4 linked regions of the Homo sapiens genome follow. The protein of the gene in region 2 purifies or fractionates together with the protein of the main gene of each other region. This does not show direct contact. Each region holds a gene or a part of one and is shown on either strand. Other genes may lie near its edges.

Evidence for each region.
Region 1: the proteins of ARHGAP26 (region 2) and REPS1 purify together in Homo sapiens (affinity purification with mass spectrometry, with the first as the bait; one large-scale study listed by BioGRID). This does not show direct contact.
Region 3: the proteins of ARHGAP26 (region 2) and TACO1 purify together in Homo sapiens (affinity purification with mass spectrometry; one large-scale study listed by BioGRID and IntAct). This does not show direct contact.
Region 4: the proteins of ARHGAP26 (region 2) and FIP1L1 purify together in Homo sapiens (affinity purification with mass spectrometry, with the first as the bait; one large-scale study listed by BioGRID). This does not show direct contact.

What each region holds. Positions count from the first base shown.
Region 1 is NC_000006.12:138,946,754-138,950,253, forward strand, and holds part of REPS1 (ralBP1-associated Eps domain-containing protein 1), read right to left. Parts: intron 1,161-3,500; coding exon 1,037-1,160; intron 1-1,036. UniProt on the Homo sapiens protein: May coordinate the cellular actions of activated EGF receptors and Ral-GTPases.
Region 2 is NC_000005.10:142,902,877-142,906,376, forward strand, and holds part of ARHGAP26 (rho GTPase-activating protein 26), read left to right. Parts: intron 1-663; coding exon 664-793; intron 794-3,500. UniProt on the Homo sapiens protein: GTPase-activating protein for RHOA and CDC42. Facilitates mitochondrial quality control by promoting Parkin-mediated recruitment of autophagosomes to damaged mitochondria.
Region 3 is NC_000017.11:63,603,895-63,606,379, reverse strand, and holds part of TACO1 (translational activator of cytochrome c oxidase 1), read right to left. Parts: intron 1,847-2,485; coding exon 1,740-1,846; intron 68-1,739; coding exon 1-67. UniProt on the Homo sapiens protein: Acts as a translational activator of mitochondrially-encoded cytochrome c oxidase 1.
Region 4 is NC_000004.12:53,384,141-53,387,640, reverse strand, and holds part of FIP1L1 (pre-mRNA 3'-end-processing factor FIP1), read right to left. Parts: intron 1-3,500.

The sequences.
Region 1 (3,500 bases), on a different chromosome or scaffold from region 2:
TCTATGAAAATGAAAGAACCCTCTGCATTTAAGTGCCTTTCTTTATAGAATTTCTATCTTCTTTCACATCAACAAGCCTCTAAATACTTGAAAAACAAATTATCTGATGTAACACTTCGATATGGTTTGACTCTGTGTTCCCACCCAAATCTCATCTTGAATTGTAATTCCCACATGGGAGGTGATTAGATCATGGGGGCGGTTCCCCCATGCTGCTCTTGTGATAGTGAGCAAGTTCTCATGAGATCTGATGGTTTAAATGTCTGTGGCTATTCCCCCTTGCTCTCTCTCTCTCTCTCTCTCTCTCTCTCTCTCTCTCTCTCCTGTGGCCACATAAGATGTGCCTTGCTTTCCATTTACGTTCTGCCACGATTGTAGGTTTCCTGTGGCCTCCCGAGCTATGCAGAAGTGAGTCAATTAAACCTCTCTTGTTTATACATTACCCAGTCTCAGGGATTTCTTTATAGCAGTGTTAAAATGGACTAATACAAACTTGTAATGTGGTCAGATGTCTATAACTAGATTTTAGTCTGCCAATATTTTAATATTGTCTCTTATCGATCAAAAAGTTTAGGTTAACTGTTACTTCTTAATTTCAACTGAAGCCTCCACAGCCTTCCCAAACAAACAAACAAACAAAAATACAAAGTATAATGTTGTTTTATTGGAAATGAAGAACACAGGGACGCTATACATGAAGATGGTCGCTGTAATTTATCATTTACCTTAATAAAACTATTCGCCTAAAATATTTCTAAACAACTTTTGGTAAATTAATTCTTAAAAAATTGCCATTTGAACAGTACATATAGTCAAATACAGATGAAGTACATATACTATGCCGTAATACAGGTCAGACATATTTTTCTAGTATTTTCAAGTGAGAAATGCAAGGTAGTGGGAATAAAGTCACGACACTTCACTCAAGGTCACAAATGCCACTATAAGATCAGAAAGACACAAGAGTTCTATTGACTTGACTTCATTTGTAATAGAAGCCTATTTTCTTTCGGTTACTAGTGTACTCTATATTTACCTGTATTTATACTTTCCACTCTTAAAGGGAAACCAGACTGGGCAACAGCTACAAGTTTCAAAGCAATGTAGAACTGACTTCTTCCAAAATAACCAAGTCTTGTTGCACCACAAAGCTCCATGATCTATAAAATAACATAATGTTAACATTAAGATTCACAACAAAAATCTCCCTTCAAAAATAAGCAGCTACCCAACTTGTTTGTAACGTCTCAAAATATCTATCTAATAGATGGTATAATACTCACAACTGACAACCAACTTCCTCAAGTTTCAGGTTCATATGTTTACAAACAAAAAGTCACTGCTTTGCAATAAGGTCATCATTCTCCTATTTATCAAAATCCATATGATTAGCAATTTTCTTAGAATAAATTTTTGTTATGAGTCACATTTTTAAAGAAACAACGTACCACCCACTCTTATTCATAAGCACTGCACATACAATAGGACCATGTGACTAAGAGACTATTATGCAGCCATTTAAAGTGACGGTCTTTAAATGATATAACAACATGGAAAAATACTAAGGATTTATCAAGTGGGGAAGAAAGGCAAGATACCTAATTTTAACCACATAAATACAAATTTGGAAACTATTTTTTAAAAGTCTATCACAATTTTTTCAGATGAGATTGAGTCGGGTTTTCCCTCTTATTTTCCAAATGTGTTTAATATGGCTACACTACTCTTCTTTAAAACAAACAAAATTTGTCTTTTTTAGAGCATGAAAGTGTTCAAGGATCTACATTAATCATTCCAGTCTTTCAACAAGTATTTCTAGACTTGCTAGCACAAGTAAATATTAGACTCAAAAAATAGGATTTCAGATTACAAAATCATAACTCTAAAAGCTGGAGGTTTCTACTATGCAGATATTATAATCTTATCTTAAAATAAACACTAGGCATGCCTGTTGTATCTTTTCAAATAACACAAACTTTTGTATAGAGAGAGCAGTTTTAGTCTATTTTTCCATAACACTCAAAGGAAGATAAGGTATCTGAGATGCTGTGGTATTAAGTCTGAATAAAACTATTCACAGGACTTCAAAAAAAGGACCTATTAATGATTAAGCAATTGTATCACAACAATAACAGCCATTTATTTACATACACAAAAAAGAGTCATTTTTGCTGGCTGACCAGCACTGGAAGAAGTTCCTGTTCCTGCCACTAAGGAGCATGTCCTTCTGAAGAAATGTAAAAGGGCAAAGAGAATAAACAGGCAGGTTAACACCATCAAGGGAACTATGAGGAAAAGGGGAGTTTAAAAAGGCAAGGTCATGCAGCCCCAATCCTCTACTCTTCTGCCCACTTGACGCCTCTTAGAGGTTCATTACATATCTTAAATACTTTTGTTTATATAACAATGCAACTAACATATGCCAGGTATATGCTAGACAGAGGGAAGACCTAAAAGGAGATCACAGTATGGTTTGTTGACATTTTGGGAAGACACCAGGGAAATGGTTAGAAATGAGGAGGTAGTGTTCAAGAAGGGAAACAGAATCTCAATGCTGTTTTAATTGGTATTTATTAAAAGTTTTATATTTGTTAGCCATTTGCATTTCTTTTCCTGACTTGCCCAACTTGTTCTCTGGCAACTTTAAATGGACTGTTAATCTTCTTTACTCATTTTAAGAAGTTTTATTGTGGCCAGGGGTAGTGGCTCATGCCTGTAATCACAGCACTTTGGGAGGCCAAGGAGGGCAGATTACTTGGGATCAAGAGTTCAAGACCAGTCTGGCCAACACGGTGAAACCCATGTCTACTAAAAATACAAAAGTTAGCCAGGTGTGGTGGTGCGCACTGGTAATTCTAAGTACTCGGGGGGCTGAGGTGAGAGGATCATTTGAACTCGGGAGATGGAGGTTGCAGTGAGCCGAGATCATGCCACTGCCCTCCAGACTGGGTGACAGACTGAAACTCCATCTCATAAAAAAAAAAAAGGTTTTATTATATTATACATATTGACCTGCAAACTGTCATGGAATTAATTCATTTATTCAATGACTATTTACTGAGCATCCTCAGGAAGGAAAGACCAGAGTGTAGCTGTAAGTGTGTGTAGAATTGATGGGGAGGAGGGAATGCAGCAGATGGAGCTGATGACTTAGGCAGAAACCAGATCATATTGCACATGTTGTTTTCTAGTTTATCTGTTTTTTCCAAAAAAGCTGTTTTGGTGATACAGAATTTTCCAATTTTTATACAAGCTTGTCATTTCCCCTTTAGGACTTTTGGGTTTGCTAGACTTAGAAAAAAGGTCTTTATACATGTTTTCTTCTAGAATGTTTATGATTAATATTGAAAATATACAAGTCTGACCAAACTGGAATTTATTTTGGAATGAGAAACAAATCAGATATCCTTTTGATCCTCCTCAATAGTTAACTATTGAGGCCAGGAGCAGTGGTTCATGCCTGTAATTGCAACACTCTGGGAGGCCAAGGTAGGAGGACT
Region 2 (3,500 bases):
ATGCTGGTGAAAACACCTGTGACAGAGTGAGGGCACCTGGACTCGCAGAGGGGGAAATAGAGCTGTGATGCAGATGCAGCAGAGGTCTCAGTGCAGGGGAGGCTCTGGAGCTGGGATGATCCTTCAAAGTCGCCCTGAATACAAGCAAGGGGGCCAGGCTTTCAACCCCCTTCTGCCTTTCCTCTAGCCTTGTCTAGTCATTGGGTGCAGGCTGACCTTGAGTGAAGGAACTCCCCTTTTAAGGAGGGACTCATCTGTGAGCCATCAGCAAGCAACATTCATGGCAGCTGGAGAAATGAACGCCTAGGTCCTTAAGTCATACAGGCCCCTAGAGCATCTGAATCAGAATCACCTGGGAGGCTTATCGTAAAACACACTTTTTGGCATCCAGAGGTGCTGAATTGATCTGTAGGAGTGAGGGCTGGGCATTTGCATTTTCTATAAGATCCCTAGGTGATTTTGATAGTCACTAGAGTTTGAGAGTCATTCTGGTATAGGACTTTAAGGCCAAAGTATACTTGTCATAAGGGAGTATTTGGCCAGTTCCTGGAAGGTTGAATGTCCTTTATCTCATTTTAGATCTAAGGATTCTATTAGGTTGATCTGGATTGTTAAAACAGATACTTTGTTTCTTTGATTTGAATAAAATTATTTTCATCCTAGACAAGAAATCGCTTTGAAGGCACTAGATCAGAAGTGGAATCACTGATGAAAAAGATGAAGGAGAATCCCCTTGAGCACAAGACCATCAGTCCCTACACCATGGAGGGATACCTCTACGTGCAGGAGAAACGTGAGTGCTTTGACTAGCAACAGCTTGGGATGTACTCAGGCCTCTTACCTAGAAGGTGGAGGATGTATTCAGCAGTGCCTACCTTACTGTAGATACATGCTTGGATAACAAGAACAATTTTATAGTTCACCTTTCCAAAGAGAAAGATGATGTCCACAGAATCTTGTCTACCTTTGTTTTTCTTTATGAATGGGAATTCCTTTGGGAACCTGCAATTCTTTAAGGCTCTGTGGTTGCTCTTCTCTCTCTAATGTTACTCTACTCTTGGGGTTCCTGTACCCCTAGTCCAGCTTTATGTACCATACCCTGAGCATAGCAGCCTTGGAAAGGTCTTACATGCTAGGCCCCTGTTATCTATCAGCAGTGTATCCTTTGGTAGACTTAATACTTGGTGATTCTGTTTTCATTTGACATTGTTTCAGCAAGGCCCAAACAATCATGACTTAGGCCTTTTTCCTCTTCTCCTCAACTCATTTCATTCCAACACTTGAATTTTATGAAAAGTAGGAACAAAGGCTCACTTCAAGAGCCAAGAAGAAGGCTGCATGCGGTGGCTCACGTCTGTAATCCCAGCACTTTTGGAGGCTGAGGTCGGTGGATTGCTTGAGCTCAGGAGTTCAAGACCAGCCTGGGCAACATAGTGAAACCCTGTCTCTACAAAAATACAAAAAGTAGCCAGGTGTGGTGGTGTGCACCTGTGGGCCCAGCTACTTGGGAGGCTGAGGTGGGAGGATTGCTTACCGGAGTGAGCCTGTTGAGGTTTATAAGAGCTCAGGAGGTGGAGGCTGCAGTGAGCTGAGATTGCCACCACTGTACTCCAGCCTGGGTGACAGAGCAAGACCCTGTCTCTTAAAAGAAAAAAAAAAAAGAGCCAAGAATACTCATTGTTCTGCCAGTGATGTCTAGGAAAGGAATGCCAGGTGCTGCTAACATGGACATTTTAGTGATGACTCACAAGTTCATGCCTTATGGCTGGGGAAAGGCTCTGTGATGGGGCCGTGCCGTTTAGGATAGCACATTCAGACTTAATTCGTGTATGCAATGCTAGGAACGAAAGAAAGTGAATGTTTTTTTCTTTAGTGGGTAATTCTTCTCCTAGTCCTTTGGTAGAGAACATTGGTCTTTTCAGATTTTTGCAGGTTTTGTGTTCTTTCATGTCCTGCTCTTCATGTAGAGTTAGGCAGATGTCTTCACTCCTAATAGCTTTCCGATGGGATAGAATAGAAATACTTGGTTTCACTAATTATTCTATTTAGTAATTACTCAAAAATTTGTTTGGACTTAAGTTTCCTGGTAACTGGGGCAGTAGTGGTGTTGGAGTATTGGCTGTGATGAGGATTACATTCCTTATTCTTACAGAGATGAGCCTGTTGAGGTTTATAAGAAATGTAGCTACTTCAGCTGTGTGTTTTGTATATGCCTGAATACAAAGTGATCCCCTCTTTGCCCAGTGAGAAGATCCCTGCAAAAGGTTTTAGGTCTACTTGAAAATATAAATTTTTAGGACTCTAAAAATATAGTTCAAAGTCCACCTATAATACTTAATTTGTTAATATATCATTCACTTACATATATAAAATCAATGTTGTTTTTTTGCACTCTCATGTCACACACTTTTATTCAGACACTTCACATGCTCTTTCAACATTAGTGTGTTGATTATCATGAGGACACTTTTTTGTTCCCTAACACAGTCCAGAGCACATGATGGGGATACAGCACTTTTTTTTTAATTTTAAATTTTTTGTAACTTGTTATTTTGAAATAATTTCAGACATACAGAAAAGTCGCAACAATGGTGTAAGGAACAACCATAAACCCTTTACCCAGTGCATCAATTTTTAACATTTAGCCACAATGATATCATTCCTTCTCTCTCTGTGTGGGTGTGTGAGTATTCACGTGAGTACAACTTGCATACACACACATACACACTTTTTTCTGAGTCATTTGAGAATATGGTTGCATATACCATGCTTCTTCAGTAGTGAGTATTTTCTAAGAATAAAAGATATTCTTTTTATGTAAACACATCTGTTAGGTTGGTGCAAGAGTAATTATGGTTTTTGCCATTAAAAGTAATAGCTAAAATCGCAATTGAACTCTTGCCATTAAAAGTAATGGCTAAAATCGCAATTGAACTCTTGCACCAACCTAATATCAAATTTAACATTGGTGCAATATTTAATCTGAACTACAGTCCGTATTCCAGTTTTGCCAGTTGTATCAATAATGGCCTTCTAAAGCATTTTGTTGTTCTCCAGTACAGAACCTCATACTGCATTTAGTTGTCATGACTTTAGTCTCCTTTAATCTGGAACAGTTCTCCAGCTTTTCTTTGTCTTTCATGACATTGACATTTTTGAACAACACAGTCCAGTTCCTTTATACAGTTTTCTTCAGCATGGGTTTATCTGGTGTTTCTTCATGATTAGATTTGGATTATGCATCTCTGGTCAAATCCTACATAAGAGTTCTTCTCTGGGGCCACATCTGGACACATGTGGTGTCGACCTGCCCCTCAGTGGTGATGTAAATTTTGATCACCCAGTCAAGGTATTGTCTGGTTTCTCCACTATACAGTCACTATTTTCCCCTTGTAACTAATTAGCAATCTGAAGGTAACACCTTAAGATCATGTAAATATCCTTCTCCTTATCACACTTTACCTCCATAGATTTAGCATCCATTGACAATCCTTGCCTGA
Region 3 (2,485 bases), on a different chromosome or scaffold from region 2:
CCTCGATGAGCAGAGAAGAGCCACCAGGGCCTCGACCCTCATACAGCAAATAAGTGTCCTTGGATTTCTGCAATAAACAACACAAGCACATTTTCCTGTTTCCCAATTCCTTCCCACATGTCAGCCCAGAACTACAAGTATCGCAAAACTAACTCCATGGGATGGGCTCTCTAGGCTGGAGCCTGAGCTCTCAATCTTTATTTTTGTCCCCACCCTCTAACCAACTTTTGAGGTAACAGGAAGTACTACCCCTAACTTGGAAGGAGTCTGTTTCTCCGGTCCCTGAACAATCCATCAGCCATCTCTCAGCTTTGCTTCCTACCATCCCTAACCAAATGCCACATCTAGTCCCTACCCAATCCCACTCAGACTCATCCTCCTACACCCCCATCCTGTAAGAAACCCACCGGTCAAGTCTCAAGGTCCCTACCCTGGGCTGCTGAGTACTGCTGTGAAATATCACACACCTAGGCCTTGTCGTAAGAGCTGCTGAAAACAGCATGGTCTCAAAATTGAAACAATTAATCCAGAGCTCTAGGGACTAATCTCTTCTGGACCTTCCATGCCCCTACTCATCCCTTGTCCATGTATTCAATATTCCCCACTCCAAGCACCCTGTCCTGCAACTTTCCAGGAATTCTCAACTCATAACTTCTCCCTTCCTCTTTCACAAAGGTAAAAAGGGCCACTAGGTGGGGAAAATAGTTGCTGTCTCCACCACCTTCTCTGCACCATGGCCTACATGAAGGCAATAAGCATAACGGTTAGAGCACAGGCTCTAAAGTCTGACTATCTGGTTTCAAGTCTGTCATTTTCTATGCGACTTGAGTCAACTCACCTAACATTCCTGTGCCTCAGTTTCTACTTACGGTGGTTTTGAGGATTCGATGAGATAACACACATAGAGTTTTTATCCATGCTTAGCCTGCAGGAAGCACTCAATAATTTTGAGCTATTAAGATAACTATTACTTCCTCAGAGCCTCCCTACCTGCCCCAGAGAAAGGTGTACCCTTACGTGGACTCTATATACCTGCCCCTCCCACCATCTCTATCACCCCCATCCTCTCCCTTTCTACTGGCTTTTCTCCTTTAGGGCATAAACATCTGAAAAACAAACACTTCCTCCACCTAACGTAAGGGCTTTCTCCCACACTGCCCCTTCTTTCTATAATACCTCATCTCCCTACAACTTGGCTGAGCAGTCCCGGTCTTGACTGTATGGCCCTGCATACTGCCTATGCATCCTACTCCCAGTTGTGCTCCTAGAACCAATGACCAAGGACGGTGAGCTCTCAGAAGACTCTAGGCTGAGGGCGTCAACTACATTGCTACCGTTCTCTCTGATAATTTTTTTTTTTTTTTTTGAGACAGAGTCTCGCTCTGTCGCCCAGGCTGGAGTGCAGTGGTGCAATCTCGGCTCACCGCAATCTCTACCTCCTGGGTTCAAGCGATCCTCCACCTCAGCCTCCCCAGTAGCTGGGATTACAAGCATATGCCACCACGCCCAGCTAATTTTTGTATTTTTAGTAGAGATGGAGTTTCACCATGCTGGCCAGGCTGGTCTCCAAACTCCTGGCCTCAAGTGATCCACCCACCTTAGCCTCCCAAAGTGCTGGGATTATAGTCGTGAGCCACTGCACTTGGCCCCTCTGATAATTTACAGTGTGTTTGTTGGCCATCCAGACATGAGCCCGGTAGAGGCTGTGATCAATAAAAAGCATGTCAAACAGTACACACCTCCATTTTCAGTGCTGTCTCAATCGTTGACTTGGGCATATGTTTGCTGCGACACACCTCTAAGATATTGGCCAGGTTGCTGTTGTGCTCAGGGTTGGGGCCTCCTTCTGAGATTTAAAGAAAAAGAAAAAAAAGAGTGAGCAAAGACATCTCATTACAACATGGGAGAATAAAAGGGATTTCCAGCCCCACCAAGCCAAAGGAGTGGCAAATCACCATTTAGCTCTCAGTTACCTTAGAATACCTTAACTAGTGTTTCAGTGGGATACGGAGAAGTATTTTCGGGTTTTTTTGGTTTGTTTTTTGAGATGGAGTCTCACTCTGTTGCTGGCTGGAGTGCAGTGGCACGATCTTGGCTCACTGCAACATCCACCTCCTGGGTTCAAGTGATTCTCCTGCCTCAGCCTCCTGAGTAGCTGGGATTACAGGTGCACACCACCACACCCGGCTAATTTTTGTATTTTTAGTAGAGACCAGGTTTCGCCATGTTGGCCAGGCTGGTCTCGAACTCCTGACCTCAGGTGATCCACACACCTTGGCCTCCGAAAGTGCTGGGATTACAAGTGTGAGCCACTGCCCCTGGCCTGGATAAGTATTTTGGAAAAGTACTTTTTTTTTTTTTGAGACAAAGTCTCACTTTGTCACCCAGGCTGGAGTGCAGTGGCATGATTTTAGCTCACTGTAGCCTCAACCTCCAGGGTTCAAGCGATCCTCCTGCCTCAGCCTCCCAAGTAGCTGGGACCACT
Region 4 (3,500 bases), on a different chromosome or scaffold from region 2:
CTTTTAAAACATCATTTTTCTTTTTTAAGCCACAAGCCTTTGTAGAGAAGCCTGTGTAGAGAAGCTTAGTGGTATGAAAAATTGCAGAGGCAAATTTGATATAATGTCCAATAGATCCCTATGAAGTCTCAGACCACTCTAAATGCTAGATCCTATACTTGGACTTTCTATAGGAACTCCAAAATAAACATGTCAAATGAATCTGTTTTGTGGGAGGTGGGAGCAGTAGCACCCACCTGTACCCAATTAACTGCTCTAGAAATCTTTAAGTCACTGAGCCCTTTATCTCCTCCTCCATCCACAACCAACCAGTTACCCATGTTATTTGTTTCTATTTATTCTTTGAGACAGGATCTTACTATATTGCCCAGGCTGGCCTGAAACTCCAAGGCTCAAGCAATCCTCCTACCTCAGCCTCCCAAGTCCATGGGACTACAGGTGTATACCACATGCCTGACTATATTTCTGTTTCTCTAATACTCAAATGTACTATTTTCCCATTCATCTCTCTACTACTGCTGCCTTAGTCTAGATTATCATCTCACCTGGACAACTACTTCACATCTATTAGTCAATGTCTCTCTATCTAACCCATCTCAACTACTGATGCTAGAGTTATCTTTTCAAATGATATGACCTGTCTAAAAACCTAATTAGGGGTGTCTAAGGGAGAGAATACAGTCATGAGTCCTTAGTTTCTGTTTCTGGTTAGGCCAGTAAAGCCCCTTTATCACCCCTCTTTTCCACTTATCACTGGAGACAGAAACTAAAAACCATGGCTTTGGGCAGCTAAAAGACTAAAACAAAGCAAAACAGAACAACAACAGCAACAAAATAAGGTGCATTGGACAAGCTTGCAAGGTCTACAAAGACATAGCAAAAGCATCCTAACTCCTTCCATAAGTGATTTCAACCATCTCTTTTCATCTACCTTATCCTCCAGCCATGTACTTCCTCCAAGGCACGCATCTAATATATTTATTGTTAGGCAGTGTCCTCCACCTAAAAACCACTGTCTCCCATCTCAAAAATTATTCAAACAAGTTCAAATGTTACCTCTGGGATCTTCTCTTCAACACCTGTAGGCTTTTAGCAACTCTCCTCTCAAACCTTTCGAATCACTTTGTACATGTTTCTATTCTAGCACTTATGTTGCACTGAAAATATTTACTCACATGTCTGGCATCCTCACTACCTCTGGAAAATAATAACTTCCTGTATTCTCATCAATTAATACATTCACAGATAAAAAATTGCTGCTTTCATGTAACTTTATCTAATTTGTTAACTCCATGAAATTTCATGGTGATTTTACCAAGGGTTCTTTTGTAGCATGGTAAATGTAAAAACAATAATAATAATGGAATGATCACAGATGGTTTGATAAAGGCACATTATCTTTGCTACTTAACACAGTGCCAGATAAATTATGTCTTTAAAAATTATTTATTGAGTACATAAATGGATCAATCTCACAGAGATAGGTAACAAACTACTTTCCAAGATAAATTATTTCTACTTTAAGAGTTGCTTTTCTTCATACCTTACTTACATATAAAATGAACTTGTAACAAAGGTATGTTACGCAAAAAAAAAAAAAAAATGCTATTTTGTATTTCCTAACAATTTACAATAAATCAATTCAGTCCTTGGACACAGTTTGTTCTTTAAATTTGCTTCTGAAAACGCTGTGCATAAGTAAATGTTTATCAAATTTCATTTTCTCACTGACTTTGTTTTCAAGGGATATACCTTGAAATATAGAGGTTAAACAACTTTACACTCTTCACAAATGCCTGTACTTTACTTTCGAAATGCATAAAATGAATAAAAAATAAATCAACTGATAAATGGGTAAACGCATAGAGGGATATGAGTTCAAGCAAACAAAGCAAAATGTAGATTGTATAATCTAGGTGATGGGTAAATGAGCATTCACATGTCAATTCCTTCAACTTTTGTGAGCATTTGAAAATTTTCATAATCAAATGTCTAAGGGGAAAAACCCTCAGAGACAACTGTAACTAAATAACATTCAGTTTATTTAGTCAATAACCATTTACTGCACACTTAACTGTATTTAAGGCAATGTGAGGAATAGAAAACTCCATAAATCACAGTTTCTTGTTTTTTTGAAGAGTTTTGAATTCAATGGTTTCTACTCTATAGAAATCTGAAGTGTGTAAAGGTAATAAATATGTATAAACATAATTACAATGCATAAAACTGAAAATTGCTATAAGAAATAAAGTTTAGTAAGGTACTATGGAAGTCCACGTATATTTAATATTTGAGTGCAATTTCTACCAAAAAAAGGTCCCATCCATAATCCAAAAAAATTGTCATTTGCTTCAAGTTGTTCTATAACTTGCAAATACAAATAATTTTACATAACATTTAATGAACATGCAATTATTACAATTTTATGTGTTCCTTTTGCATCATGCAGATAGTAAAGGCCTACTAGTACTACAGTATAAGCCCAACTTTCTCATTAAGTAATTATTTACTTTCCCAAATGAGAATGAGGAGCACATTTAGAATATCCACCCCTAACATGAAAAATCAGCCTCTTTACTCTGTTCCCTAAAAAGGTGCTAGGATTTTAAAATTACATGGGTAGTCATTATTATAATACAAAACTGACTATGACAATAACTGAATTGGCTTTAAGCTTCCTGAAATGACTTCTGAAAACAAATGACTCTACTAATAAAATATTTAACAATATTTTTGTATATACTGGTTGATTCCAGATGAGGTTGCTTAATGAACTATAGTGAAATTAATGTATTTTATGTTTCCAATGCATAAGCTATAATAACCACATTATACAGCCAATTTGAAAAACAAAACACATTGACTCTTATTCTCCTATCGTAACTAAATCACAATTCGTACTTCAATGTATTTCCCTTCCAATCTTTCTGTAAGATTCTTTATGCGCTCAATGAGTCAATGACAGTCCATTTACTTGGTCCAGTTTATAGAATACAAAATTGGAGACAAACATTGGCCTAAAAGGCCTAAGGGAGAATTAGAAACCTGAAAACACTATTAAGAACAAAAAGAAATACTTTTGATATTGTTTTTATTAGGCAAAAAAATTAAAAACCTAAACTCAGGTCTGGATAATAAAGTGAAATAATAATAAGTACAGATACAAATTACAATTTAAGGATTTCTAATTCTAATCAAAGAATTTATAGTACTTTTTTTTTTTCTTTTTCTCGAGACAGAGTCTCACTCTGTTACCCAGGCTGGAGTACAGTGGCTCGATCTGGGTTCACCGCAACCTCCACCTCCCAGGTTCAAGTGATTCTCCTGCCTTAGTCTCTGGAGTAGCTGGGATTACAGGTGCCCACCACCATGCCTGGCTAATTATTGTATTTTTAGTAGAGATAAGGTTTCACCATGCTGGTCAGGCTGGTCTTGAACTCCTGACCTCAGGTGATTCACCCGCCTCGGCCTCCCAAAGTCCTGGGATTACAGGCATGAAC